Linked DNA regions of Homo sapiens. The protein of the gene in region 2 interacts with the protein of the main gene of each other region in a pairwise test. Each region holds a gene or a part of one and is shown on either strand. Other genes may lie near its edges.

The links.
Region 1: the proteins of TENM1 (region 2) and SORBS1 interact in a two-hybrid assay, tested with the Homo sapiens proteins (one study listed by BioGRID).

What each region holds. Positions count from the first base shown.
Region 1 is NC_000010.11:95,334,160-95,341,440, forward strand, and holds part of SORBS1 (sorbin and SH3 domain-containing protein 1), read right to left. Parts: intron 7,252-7,281; coding exon 7,126-7,251; intron 5,169-7,125; coding exon 4,974-5,168; intron 3,136-4,973; coding exon 2,362-3,135; intron 1-2,361. UniProt on the Homo sapiens protein: Plays a role in tyrosine phosphorylation of CBL by linking CBL to the insulin receptor. Required for insulin-stimulated glucose transport. Involved in formation of actin stress fibers and focal adhesions.
Region 2 is NC_000023.11:124,382,257-124,389,537, forward strand, and holds part of TENM1 (teneurin-1 isoform 1 precursor), read right to left. Parts: exon of another isoform or gene 5,533-7,281; intron 3,809-5,532; coding exon 3,421-3,808; intron 2,599-3,420; coding exon 1,378-2,598; intron 557-1,377; coding exon 414-556; intron 1-413. UniProt on the Homo sapiens protein: Involved in neural development, regulating the establishment of proper connectivity within the nervous system. May function as a cellular signal transducer.

The DNA.
Region 1 (7,281 bases), on a different chromosome or scaffold from region 2:
CAAATAAGCAACACAGCCTGTGGTCACGTCATCCTGATGGGGCTGCCAGAGAACAGTTGTCATACAAGTCCTTCCCATTTTTAGCATGTCTGTCACCCAAAGGGGGCCCAAGACACAGGAGCCCCTTCTGAAGGACCCCGTTTCCAGAGTTGTCAGCTCCTGCTCCAGCCACAGGAGGGGAAAGTGAGGGGGCTGAAGGGGAGGTGTGGGCAGCAGCCCTTTTCACACAAATGCCAGCTCTCAAGGGGGAGCGAGCCCCAGGCCACAGCCTGTGCACACCCATGGAGAAGGGGCTTGTGCCAGGAGGGCAGGAGGAAGGGAGGGGACAGGAAGTGGTACACTTGGGGTCTGGAGGCCCACCAAGAAAGGAACACCAAGTTTCAACAAGCCTGGCTTTCCAATCAACATAATCTTCAGTGTTGCCAGCTACTCCCCTCCTATCCTGCCTTAGGAAGCAGGAAGCGTATACCCCTAACCTTACTCGGAGATCCGGCACCGTGCGCACTTCCTATACACACAGGATCCTGGAATTGGGCCGGGATGATGACTCAACACTGACGATAAGGATGTCCCCGGGTGCCTTGGGTTGACTTAGAATGTTTATAGAATTGTTCCTGTGTCAGAAACGTTTAATTCTTTTCAACTAGCCACTTCACCATCTCTTCTATTCCTTCCTCAACCTGTTCCAGGGCCAGGCAAAGCCTTTGCCAGGTATTACTGCTTTCCTACAGCCCTCCACAGCAGCGGGTGACCCCACATATGGAGCCTTGGCACATGCCAAGCACCGACTTCCATGAATTACCTCACTGAATCCTTATGACTGCCCTACAAGGGATGGACTGCTTCCACTCCTGCTTAGCATGTGAGAGGTTAAGTGGCTTTCTAGCAAAAGGCTAAGCCTGATTTCTTATAAACTGCCCCATGCCGGCTCACCCTCAGTGATCCCCACTCCTGATGTGCTGGCCCACCCATGGGCCCACATGTGCTTGGCTGGAGCTGGAAGTCTGGCCTAGTGTGTCTCAAGCCTCTGTGCTCCTGTGTCCCCCAAGCATGCCTCTATTATTGCCCTGGTGATATTGCTAGGCTCCTCCTTGTTTTGAGGAGCCTTGAACTTAGGGTTCTCAAGAGGAGAGACAAATGACCTTTGTATTCTGCCCAGAGGCTGGTACCTGCAGGCCTTATTCATAGACTGAATAACTACAGCCTCAAAGGGAAACTGAGGTTGCAAGCCTAAGGGTTAAGCACTATTTACTGTGGACATCAGACATACTAGATACTTAATAAATGGCTTGGAGACATCTTCAGGAACTCAATCTGGGTCTAAGGAAGTTCTAAAAATATTCTCAGTTCTAGAAGCAATTCTAGATCACCCAAGATGGTGGCTCTATAGCTTCCGTTTATAAAGTGCTGACCATGTTCCCAGGATCATAAGCCCTTGTAATCAACCACTCTTTGAGGTAGGTGCTATCATCTCCATTTTACAGATGAGGAAACTGAGTCTCAGACAGGGGAAGCAACTCCCAAGTCACTAGACTGTAAGAGGTGGAGCTGGCATTCAAACCTGGTTGCTTCTGAGAAGTTGCCGAAAGTCTTTGACTTTCGCAGTAGTCAACAGCATAGCCAAAATCAGAATTGTGATTTGTTTAGTTGCTAAGTTCATTTCTCCAAAAAAATTTTCAGGTCTCAAAACACCCTAAGGCTACCTTTGTCCAAATGCTCTCTGGGTCTTTGTAGCTGACCCAGAGAGAAGATGGTACACTCACCCCAAAACCTGGCATGGCTATTCGAGGATACCCCATGTCAGTCAGGGCCCCAGGAGACCTGCATTCTCCTCTCCAGAACCAAAACACCTTTGTTTCATAGCAAACAAAGGCCCCGCGCTCCCACACAAACACGAGACAGGACAAAGACCTGACAGAGCCGAGCACTAGCAGAGCACCATGGGTTATGGAAACAAAGTGCATCTTACATAAAAGCAAACCACACCACACCAAAGCCTGGTGTTCTCAGCTGTGTTAGTCAAAGCAAACTGAGGGTCATCTCTAAGGCATACATGGGATGTGAGGAAGGTCTGCCTTCTCAGAGGCCCTTGCAGCAGGCCAGGAGGCATTCAAAGTAGAGATAACTTCCAAATGACCTCAAGTGGCCAGATATAGCCTGTCCTTTCCCTCCAACTGTATCCAGTCCTGGCACCTGAATTCATGTCCTCCCATTCCCTCTGGGGCCATCTCTTTGCTCCTGAGGCAAGCAAATGGTCTCACCAGCATTCACTTGGCCTCCGTAGATGGACCAGGGGCGAGACGTGCAGCCCACCCTGCCAAGTGAGACGCCAAGTGCACACGCGGCATGCTGCAGTCCTACCTGGCTCCCACCTCTCCGAGCAGCTTTCCTCCCCGCCTGCTCGCCACCTCTATGCCGCTCTGTCTGCTCAGCCTCACTTCCTGGAAAAGCGCTACCCAGGGGCTTGCCGGGCCGGCTCTCCTCAGGGGTGTTGAGATCTGAGAGTCTCTGTTCAGTACTCAGGCACCTGACCACGTCTGAAGGCTTCAAGCAGCTCTTCTTAGAGATCTTGGGTCCACCAGGGCCTCTTTCGCCTGCCCCCCTCTCTGCTTTCCTCTCATATTGTCCACTCTCTTCGCGCCATGGCTGCCTCTTGCTCTGGCTGCTAAAGGCATCACTAAGCTGGGAGATGACACTATCAGAGCTCCCCAGCGGCAGCTGCAAGAAGCTATCTTGGTGGATGCCTGAAGATGGCGTGTGGACACCACCGTCTCCATTCATGTGAAGGGAGGCCTGGGAAGTAGGTGCTAGGGAGTAGGTTTTGTGTGGGGAAGGTAGGGCCAGTGGAGAAGCTACTGATCGTGGGGTGGGACGATCTGACCAACTCAAATGGGGGAGGCTGAGAGACAGGGAGGGACTGGCCCTTGGTGACAAGGCGAGGTGGTCAGTGTTATAGATAGAAGCCTCTGGCAGAGGAGGCAAGGGTGGGGTCAGGGCCAGAGAACGCCTGCCTGGGACCCCCACAGTCAGTGAGATCCACTCAGAGGTGACAGCGTGCATCTCGGGGGACAGGGCTCGGCGGGAGTGGGGCAGAGATGAGGGGGCTGGCGTGATGAGCTTGCTGTGACTGGAAAACTTAAAAAGAAGAAAAGAGAGGAAAACAAAAGAAAGAAGCAAAAGGTACAAGTGTCAGCATAAAGGAAAAAGAAGGAAAATAATCACAAGGGGTATATAAAGAGGAATGAAATGGAGAGGATGAGCAAGGACACTCTGGTGTCCAAAAAGGAAATCCTCAGGTTACATCTGGGGAGAAACCAGGATGGGTGAGTGTGCGTTTGAGCATGTGCGAGCGTGATCCTGATGTGTGCAGGCAGGGGGTGGAGGAAGCAGTGAGAGGTGTGGAGATGGGGAGAGGTTCCCGTCAGAGTAGTGACGGATGAGGCCGCCCTGCTTTGCAGAATCAGATTTTCAAAGGGACACATTGGAAGCTCCCCATCCCAGCCAACCCAGCCCCTGTGCATCCAGATCCCTGACCCGGAACCATACGGGGAAAGGTGGCCCCACACTGCCATGGCCCTTCCCTGGGGTTTTATTTTCTCTGGGAGCTCAGCAGAGTCTTCCAGAGAGGAGTATGAGTAGTGTACTAGTTTTGTTTTACAATCACTCTTGGCTAGTCAAGTGAAAAATGTAGTTGAGTTCCCTGCATCCTTACAAAGAAGAATGTCCCACTCCAGTCACACACTCTGTCCTATAAGACAACAGGATGCGGCTATCACTGTCCAGGAAGCCCTGGGTCAGCCCGTTTAATGCTTTCTGCCAAGAACCCTCTACTGGGGTCAGTGATGAGCAGGTGGCAGAGGAGGAAACAATTAGAGGACCAGACAAGAGGCACCATCTCAGGGTCAACCTGGGCCCCCAGGTCCTACTCTTGTTCCTCTGCCAACCTCCTTACAACATACATGGTGGTTTGTCCAGGCTCTTTCACAGGGATGTCACCCCCACCGTGTCACCCTGAACTCAAGGTTCTGACATTTTCTTGGCTTTGGGAAAGTGGGGATCAGTTAGGAATAGTTTATATTTCTAAACAAGTTTGTTCATAATTAATGTTTGGGAAAGCCAACATCTTATTACGCCTATAAACCTATATCCTTTCAGCCCACAGAGACTGAGATGCTGTAAGTTACTTGTTCCAATCACCTGGTTCCAGTGAATGCAAATAATACTTTGGATCTGGTCTATATGGCTGATGAGAAGGTGTAAGTCTCTCTTTCAGCCTTTGTCTTCTGCAGGTCAACTTTGGCCAAGATGACTGAGGACCGCATTTGGACCATGGGATTTATGACACAGTGGTGGTACCCACACCAACAGCTTCACCCAAGAGGGGCCAACTGATAAAGGCTCTTGTTTCTCTGTTTCTCTTTCCCTAGTCACCTTATTCCCAGAGCAATTACTTGACTATTCCTTTTCCCTTGAGATATATCTGCAACCAAGCACTGGAAAAGGCCATTTGTATGCATAAAGACAAAGTCCAGTGTACAGTCTGCTTTCCTGCAGTTTTTTTTTTTTTGAGATGGAGTCTCGCTCTGTCGTCCAGGCTGGAGTGCAGTGGCATGATCTCGGCTCACTGCAACCTCTGCCTCCCAGGTTTAAGCGATTCTCCTGCCTCAACCTCCCGAGTAGCTGGGACTACAGGCGCCCGCCACCACGCCTGGCTAATTTTTGAATTTTTGGTAGAGATGGGGTTTCACCATGTTGCCAGGCTGATCTTGAACTCCTGACCTCAGGTGATTCACCCGCCTCGGCCTCCCAAAGTGCTGGGATTACAGGCATGAGCCACCACACCCGGCCTCCTGCAGACAGTTTTTAATTGCAGTGCTCAAAAACCTCCCCAGAGAGGCTGTGTGCCATCAGCACTGTTGACTACAAAAATTCACATGCTGAGTATGAAAACCAGTGACGAGAAGCTTAGATACCTGTGGGCTTGCAGTGGCACTGCGACTTGGGGAGGAGGAGAAAGGCAGGTCCATGTAATCCACAGGGTTTTTCACCAGTGGTCGCTTGATCACATCCACGTAGGTGATGGGGAAGATGCCTTGTCGGGATGTCCCCGGGATCCTCCCTTCGTACCAGTTCTCATCTACCTGCCGGAGCAGTGTGATCCTCTCACCCTGGAAGACACAGCAAAGAGAGGGTCCTTGTCCTAGCATGCCTCTGCATGCCTGGGGCCTCTGCCTGCATGCTTCAATGTCCTGCATTGTTTATCACATCCTTAGCTCAGGAAAAACCTTCCCTGCTGAACCTGGAGGGAATTAACACCACTGGGATGAGGATGCTAATGGCAGAGGAGCTATCTTGATGCTGGGAAGTTCAGCTTGGTTCTTTAAGTATTTTAGTAAAGGAGAACATCAGATTTGTGTCCCTAAGCCAGGGAACAAATGTAGTGTTTTTGACTCATTTAATGTGAAACAGATACCCAATCTTCATTTCTAAGGCAAAGATTTTGGGGGGTTTCACTTTTTCTTTCTTTTGTAGCATTATAGATACTTATAATGTATCATTATAGAAAAATCAGAACACAAACGTAAAGCAGAAAACAATCATCACCCATCACATAGTCATTTGGGGATAAACACTTAATATTTGGCATATGGACTCCCCAGATTTACTTCTATGCATGTGAATTAAACCTGCACATATTTTTTCTTATAAAAATTGAGTATGAACTGTGTTTCCCTTTTCCAACTTGCTTTTTAAAAAATACTTAATAGCACATAGTAAACCTCCTTCTTTATCAAGAAATAGAATTCTAGATTTTTAATGGCATTGCATAGCTTAATGGACCACTGCAGGGTATTCTGTCGCACACACATATAATGATTTAATTACTGATCCCCTGCTGTTGGGCAACTGGGTTGCTTCCAGTGCTTTTTCTAACAATGTGCTCACTTCCCTCAAGCCTCAATAAAATCAGTAACTTAGTAACTTTAGCAAGCCAGAGAATTTTGCCATGTAGAGTGTTTGGATTCTGGAAAGAACAACTTCTCTGCACAATGTAATTATGTTCTGAATAAGCATGATGGTGATAATAATAATACTGGCATCTCCTGTTTACTAAGCACCAACAAGATACCATGTGTCATGCTGGGGGCTTCACATAAGTTGTTTCACCGAAGCCTCTTACAACCACCTAGGAGAGAGCCATCTATCTTCATTTTTTTTCTATAAGAAAATGGTGGCTTGGAAAAAGTATTTAACTCCCACATTCTGCGTAGTTGGTTTGTGCCTTTTGGGTTCAAAGCTTTTCAAACTTCTCCTGGTATCAATGGACCTGTTTTTTCCACTAGGTCACACCAATATATTGTAAAACCCAGTCCCCAACACAATGCATTATGACATCATTAGTTGGTAAGTGTTGGTTGAAAACAGCTTATAAAAGATGTCTAAGACTCCAGAAATACTATGTTTAATCAGTGAGCTCAATATAGTTAAACCCTGATATTAGCCTAGGGTTTATTTTAAAAATACCTTACCTCAGAAAATTCTCCAATTGCCCTTAATGCAATTCTTTTTTTTTTTTTCTTCAGTAGAGATGGGGCCTTGCTACGTTGCTCAGGCTGGTCTTGAACCCCTGGCCTTAAGCGAGCCTCCTGCCTTGGTTTCCCAAAGTGCTGGGATTACAGGCCTTAATGCAATTCTTTTTTTTTTTTTTGGAGACCTATTGCCCAGGCTGGAGTGCAGTGGAGCGATCTCAGCTCACTGCAACCTCTGTCTCCCAGGTTCAAATGATTCTCCTGCCTCAGCCTCCTGAATAGCTGGGATTACAGGAACCCACTACCATGCCCAGCTAATTTTTGTATTTTTAGTAGAGACGGGGTTTCACCATGTTGGCCAGGCTAGTCTCAAACGCCTGACCTCAAGTGATCTACCCACCTCGGCCTCCCAAAGTGCTGGGATTACAGGCATGAGCCACCGTGCCCAGCCCTTAATGCAATTATTGATTGGCATACTTCTCTTAAGGGTACAGACAGCACCCCCAGACTGGGGTGTGATAGCAACACCACGCTTCCCCACATAGCTGCGCCATCCAAGAGAGCCCCAAAGCAAGGCATGAGAAGTGCAGCTTACCTTTCTGAAGGACATTTCTACTTGTGTATCACCATTAAAGTTAAACTTAGCAATAGCTTCTCCATATTCCAAAACCTGCACTGGTGTCAACTTTTTGGGCTGTGCCTTCTCAGCAGGAGGAAGAAGCTGAGAAAGGGAAAGAGGTAAAAGAGAACA
Region 2 (7,281 bases):
ATAATTTTATTCTGTTATTCCCATGCTCTTAAGACATCAACCCCTAAATTATTTTACAGTTGGAAATCTGATGTTTTCGTGTCTCTTACCGAACAATTTTCTCTAGGTAGAATCCATAATTGCTCTTGGTAGCCCATTTCAGAATTTTTAAAGTACAGTTCCTCTTTCCTCTTATGTACCTATTGCAGCAGTCATCAAGTAACCTGTTAATCTTTTTTTTCCCCCAAAACTCCAATTCTCTGATCTTTTTTCTCATGGAGCTTTTTTTATACCTTCTCATTAATTGTGCACGTTTTAGTGAATATTCAAGAAGACTAAAAAATCAGTAAGCAAACATATGTATATATAATTTCTGGGTATTGAATGCCCTTCTGTTGTTTCAGCTAAAAGGAGGTGATAAAACTTTTACTAACCTTTCCAGGATCCCACTCTTGAGTTTTTGTCTGAAGCCGTAGAAGCTCGTAAGTTAATTCTAAATTTTCTAATTCAGGTTTGGGAAATCCAGGTAGTACATTGTGTAATTGGAAACCAAATAGCTCCAACCAACTTCTGATGTCTGTGAGACACAATATTAAAAAAAGAAAATGAAAAATCCCATACTTTATAAGCTTTGTTGAAAACTTGAAAGATACCTCTCCTGCCTTCAAACTGTTTAGGCAATAGAAGTTAGGAATAAAACTCCTATTTATTTATTTATTTATTTATTTATTTATTTATTTGACATAGTCTCACTCTGTTGCCCAGGCTGGAGTACAGTGGTGCAATCTTGGCTCACTGCAACCTCCACCTCTTGGGTTCAAGCGATTCTCCTGCCTCAGCCTCCTTCCTGAGTAGCTGGGATTATAGGCATGTGCTAATTTTTGTATTTTTAGTAGAGATGGGGTTTCACCATGTTGGCCAGGCTGGTCTCAAACTCCTGGCCTCAAGTGATCTGCCTGCCTCAGCCTCCCAATGCTGGGATTACAGGTGTGAGCCACCGCACCCAGCCTAAAACTCCCCTTTATATGGCCCACACTAAAACACCTGATCCTCTCTCTACAGGGTAGAGTGTTGATTTGTGGATAACCCTGGATTATAATATCAGCTTATATGATGAAACAAGAATCCTGAATTTTTCTTTTACGAAATTATTCATATAAGCTTGTAAGAGTAAAACACAGAAACAGCTAAAAAATGTAGTAGGATGCAAAAGTATTATATGTTAACATGCACGTTTTGCTCACTCTAGAAAACTAAGGAAGACAGCAAATGCACAATAACTTGCGGGCTAACTGTCAGGAAGAGGAAGCATATTTACAAAGGCATTGAGATTCTGTGATAAAATCAACAGTACTGAGTTACTCAAGTTTAGCTTAAAGTTTTAAATAGTTTAAATACCTGTGGTATACTTTGCAACATCTTGAATTTTGCCAACTGGGTAGTTATTTTCAAAGGAGTAGAGGTTGAATGGTTTAGGAAGGAGGTTCAACTGTTTCCATATGTGATGATTAGGCGTTGTCCATCTGCCAGCAACAACATCATAATCCCTTTGCCCCAGGTGCACTAATTTAGTAAGGAAATCATAGAGTCCTCCATGAAAACCAATAATGACCTGAAAGTCAGGGTAAGTGTCATGATAGATATCGCCATAAGGTGTGTATAGTATCTCCTTTATGACCTGACCTCGGCTGCTGAACACAGCTAGTGGGGTACCTGTATTATCACAGGCTACATAATATTCTTCACCACTGCTTAACTCCATGGCAATAAGGTGACCTTGGAGATCATAATACAGAGATGTAATCTCCGAGCTTGTGTGGTTGTACAAATGAGTAACTCTTATGGGGTTGGTAAGGTCTGCATAAAAGAACTGAAGGTGCTGCCCTAGGCTGGACTTACTCGCGACACGTCGCCCAAGCCCATCATAGTAATACTGCACAGTCCAGCCAGAAGCCTTATTGTAGGCTTTCTGCAGCAGGCCATTAGAATTATATTCAAAAATATCATTTCCCCTCTGCCTCAGAAAGCCATCTTCATCCATTTTATACTGAATTTCTCCTAATCTGGTGATGCGGTCTCGGAGGTCATATCGGAGAGGAGTAAGACGAGCACTCTTCCCATGGCTTAAGAGGTTGATGTTTCCATTCAGATCGTAACTATAACGCCACTGGGTTTTGTCATTTACAGAAACAGTCTGAAGTTGCCCATCAGCATCGTATTCATAGAAGTACCTTGTTATATTGGCATCTACTCCTACCCTTATGTCACATATTACCATGCGGCCCACATTATCATATTGAATGGTCATCCAGTAGGCAATTGCCTTTAGGATTTCATATTGGACTTCAATGACTTGTCCATTGGCACTGAAGATTTTGGTGTGTTTCATCACTGTAGTAGTTATGACCTGATTTAAATCGTAATTAATTACACTGAATTTTCCAAACTGCTCTGTTCTGCCAGAGACATCAACATATCGGTAAAGATCTATAGGCAAAGGGGTTTCATTGATTACAGCTTGCATGCTTGTGACTCGGAAATTGTTGTAGCTGTAGTCGAACCGTGCATTCACAAGGCCTTCTTCACTGAATCTGAAAATCTGGCGTCCAATAAGAGGTCCTGCAGGAACCAAAACAAAAACAGTAAGAAGCTAGGCGATCAATGTGGAAGAGTCAGAAAGGTCTAGTGTTATTTTATTTAGTACTGGTGCTTTTATATTCATAATACAATATTAGAGACTGATCTCTGATATCAAATGCCTGGGCATATTACCTCATGGATATATATTCTCATAGTGGTAATCCTCAAATATAAAAAATTAAAATACTCTATAGTTATAGAAAATTTTAATTATAGAAACTACAGAAGTAATAACACATCCAGTAGCCCAGGGTGATGAAATTGATACTTCTTGCTATAATCACTGACAAAAATGCTTTCATTTCATTTAACCTTTGCTACAAAGTCAGAGGGTCAGGTTTTGACAAATTCCAGCATTAAAGTAACTGGATTTGGGCATTCTATAAACCCAAAGGGTGAAATACATTAGAAAGTTCTGACTTGTGAAGATATTTTGTCATCAACTGAGGCTTATAAAGGTTACACAGGGCTTGAGCTAGTTTCAGTGAGACTTATATCTTGCCGTTTCATCTTTGAGAAGATTTGGTGCTGAGCAGGAATGGGTATACAGTTACACTAGGCACTTGGATTTCAAATTACTTGAGAGCTGAAAGAAAGAAATGCACTATATGTTTTTAAGAAATCAGCTTTCATCAGACTATAACATGCTTTACATTTTCAATGTCAGATAATTTGATAAGTAAAGTGAAAGTTGGGTTGAATGTGTGTAGATTAATGCTTCTATCTCACACTGTGGTCAGTAAAAATGTCATAAGAAAATAGTGATGTTGTTGTACACACCACCACTCTTTCACAACAAACCTGTTTGCCTGTATCTGATTGTGCAGATGAATCCGTCATGCATCAGGTGTATTGTCTTAATCACTCCAGAAGACTCTTCATATGTTAATGTGACCTGAGTGGTATCATAGAGAACCTCAGAAAGCCTTGCTTGCTTGGTGTACTTGTATAAGACTCTGCGCCCTGTCCCCAGATGCAGGGTCTGTAGCAATCGGCCATCTCGACTATAGTCTTGGATAAAAGAAGTGCTACTGTCCGGTGGGGTGTAGATGTTCCGGTAGTAGCCCACTGAAAGCATGGTTTGTAAGCTGTGACGCACCATGCTAGGCATGGTGACTGAGAGCAGACAATCTGGTTGGTCATACTCAAAGATGTAACGCCGCTGGCTGTGTAGGAGAAGCATCACAGACTGAAACGAGACAAAGGCAGAATAGCATATTATGGACAACTAAAGTTGAGGCGACTAAAGAAAATACACATTCATCCATTCAACACAAATCAATCAAGCACTTACTGTGTGCCAGACACTGTGGCAAACCCTAGTGGATACAGTAGTGCACAATAGTGGTGTCTATCTTCATGAAATTTACAGTTTTAATGGAGGAGAAAGACAAGTAACCAAGCAATTACAATATAGTGTGAAATGTGTTATGACAGGGGAGTTACAGAGTGCTTCTGGAAGGCAGAGGAAGACCAGCTTACTCAGACTTGAGAGACCAGAAAAGGCTTCTTGGATAAAGTGGCATCTGAGTTGAGACATAAAGATTGCCTAGGGATTGTCCAGGTGAAGGCAGGGAGCCGGGGGCAGGGGTAGGGAAAGAGTATTCTTGGCAGAGAGCACAGCCTTGTGAGGGTCTGGATATGAAAAAGAACACGGCTTTTTCAGAGAATGAGAGAAATTTTGTGTGGCTAGAACTTGAGTATGTTGGGAGTGGTGGGAATGGCAGGAGATGACGTCAGCTATGTAGGCTGAGTCCAGATCATGCTAGGCTTTCTAAGCCACACTAAGGAGTTTGGATTCAAGTATGTTGGCAACAGGGAGTCATCGAAGGGTTTCTATTTTATTTCATTTTTTTAGAGCCAGGGTCTCACGGTGTTGCCCAGGCTGGAGTGCAGTGGTGTAGTCATAGCTCACTGCAGCCTCGAACTCCTGAGCTTAGGCTATCCTCCTGTCTCAGCCTCCTGAGTAACTGGGACTACCAATGTGTGCCACTGCATCTGGCACTCTTGAAGGGTTTTAAGCAAGTTAAGGGACGGTTGCAAGAGGGCACTTGCAAGCTGGGAGAAACTGTCAAGTTGGTATTTTAGAAAGGTTACTTCAACGTGCATATGTTTCAGAGGAAGGTAAATGGATGGCAGGGCATTTCACAAATTAATTTATAGTTATCATAAAGTATTGATTGACTTCACATACTAGATGTCTTCCTAAAAATTGTGCATAAAATATTATTATGGCACTATTAATGTTTTGCAATTGATGTTTTAACTTCACATTTCCATTTGTGTTTTAATATTAGGGAAGCATGTCATTAAAACTGAATGATTCTCTGGTTATGCAGCCCCTCTCCCCCAAACTGATCTGTATTTTAGAAACAGTTGTTTGTTGAGGTATAATGCAGGTAACAGGTGTTTCATAAATATTGATTGTCTTGTTTTAATTCTAAATGCAGACATAAAAGGAGCACTGTTTTAGGGAGGACTCTAATTGACTGACATGTGCATCTCATCTTTTAATAAAAATAAAAATTTCTCATCCTTGGAGATTCTGATATGACTCCCTAGAGGAGCTTTATCCTTCCCCTTTAGAAAATTACCTTTTCAAGCAAAGAGATTTAGTTGAGGGTTATTTATTCAAGTTTGTGTTATGAAAACAATAGGTATATTTTCATTTTCTAAGCACAAATTATATAAATATTTATGAATGTGAATTACACAAGTATATGTAATGTACATTTATATCTTCTAAATATGACATTACATTCTAATATTGAATGTGCTTTCTGAAACTGCATATCCTCCCTACCCTTCTGAGAATTATTGACTTTGAATTGCATTTCAGTACCATGAAGTCAAAGTCAGTGGTTATTTGCTCATTTGTTCATTCTTTCTTTTCCACCAACATTACGCCTGCAGAGCCAGAGGTGAGTGCAGAAATCCTGTCAATTCGTCACTTGTGGACAACCTGCAGCTTGCCACAGCCTACAGTTCCACCACTGTGACCTCTGAAAACCTCCTGAACAAAAGGAAGGAGACTTGGAAATCCTGAATGGGCTTGGAGACATTAAGGGAGAACTGCCTCCCTGGACCAAGGCAGAATTCAATAGAACCAGCAAGAAATTTTCCTATGAATGGGAAAGCAGGTGGCAGGGGGCAGGGGTGGAAAAGCTTTGTACAGGAATTGTGGAAAAGCTTTTGCATTATCTCTAGTCTGAAAGTCACATTTCTCAGTTCCTTTCCACTCTCTTCTGTCAACTTGCTGTGAGTAAATGACATCTGTCACCTGTGACACGGGCCAGGGACTATCACCATATGGCCCCCACACATTATCTAGTACCAGCCTGCCTGGGCCATGCCTTTTCCAGTCACTGTACCAGCCTTTCCAAGTATTTATGGCACGTCGTTGTTATTCTCTCCTCTGTTCCCATCCTCCTGCCTGCAGTAAACCACTGCCTGAACCGTGTTCCTAGGTGGTGCTGATGCTGGGCTGTCTCAAAAGCCCTTAGTCTGTTTCAAAGCTTCCTGCCAATGGCAAGAATGTGGATGATGTGATTAGAAATCAAATGAATGTAACTGTTACATTGCCAAAATACCATTTAGCTCTCATTTGGCTGCTTTTTCACTTTGGGTGGGCATTATTATCAGTTTGCTCAAAAACAGTGCTTATGAATCTATCCAATGTCCACAATGCTGTTATAGGATAAAAGGCCATTTCTTATTAGTCCAAATAACAGAGTGGGAGACTTTTATTCTTTTAATTGATTGTGAGGTTCTAAAAGAGATAATTGTAAAAGCAACAACAACAGCAACAGCAATCATGGCTGTATGCTTATTTGAACAAGACTAGAAATGAGAGCAGAAATTTGAAAAGTTAAAGCATTTGAATGACCACCAGATGGCAGTGTGGGGCCACCTGGAAGCTGAAGCCAAAGTCGTCGTTCTGTCTCTCTAGGCAGCCTCTGAAAGTGTCAGCCCCAAAGAGGCAATTGCTGTAAATGTATAAGGCTAAAGTATCTTATTAAATGATTATAAAATATATTTAAATGCATTTTAAAAATGAAGTTCATAAGAATTATTTTAGGAAACTGAAAGGTTTACATTTACTCTAATACAAAATTTTAGCCCACAAGTCTTCAAAATATAATTAACTCAGAGAAGTCTCATAAATCAAGACAGAGAATTAATGACCACATAGAGAAAATTTAAGAAACAATAATTGATTTTTTTAATAGGGAAGAGATCATTAAGCAACCACAGCCATTACCCAAATAATTATTTTTCTCCTAATGGCTACAACCATTGTGCATGAAAATGATATGCATAAGTTTCACTTACTCTAGAAGAAGTCAAACTATTTTCACAAAATTTCTGCGTGTTAAGGTGAAAAATCTGCTGCTGCTTTTTAATACATCGTGACACAGGTATGGCAAGCGAATTCACAAGGTAATACCAGAGTATTTTGGGGTGTAAAAAGAGAAATCCATTTTAAAGTTTGAGAATTCTTAGTTTAAAATATACTACAAGAACGAGCCTCTTTATCCCTGCTCTGCCCCTGTCATAGTGGGAGAATGTGCCACAAAGGCCATATTAATGAGAGGACTGGAAAGAACACAAGGAGATACAAAACCTCAAGTCAGTGAAAAAGTTACATGTTACATGGGATTT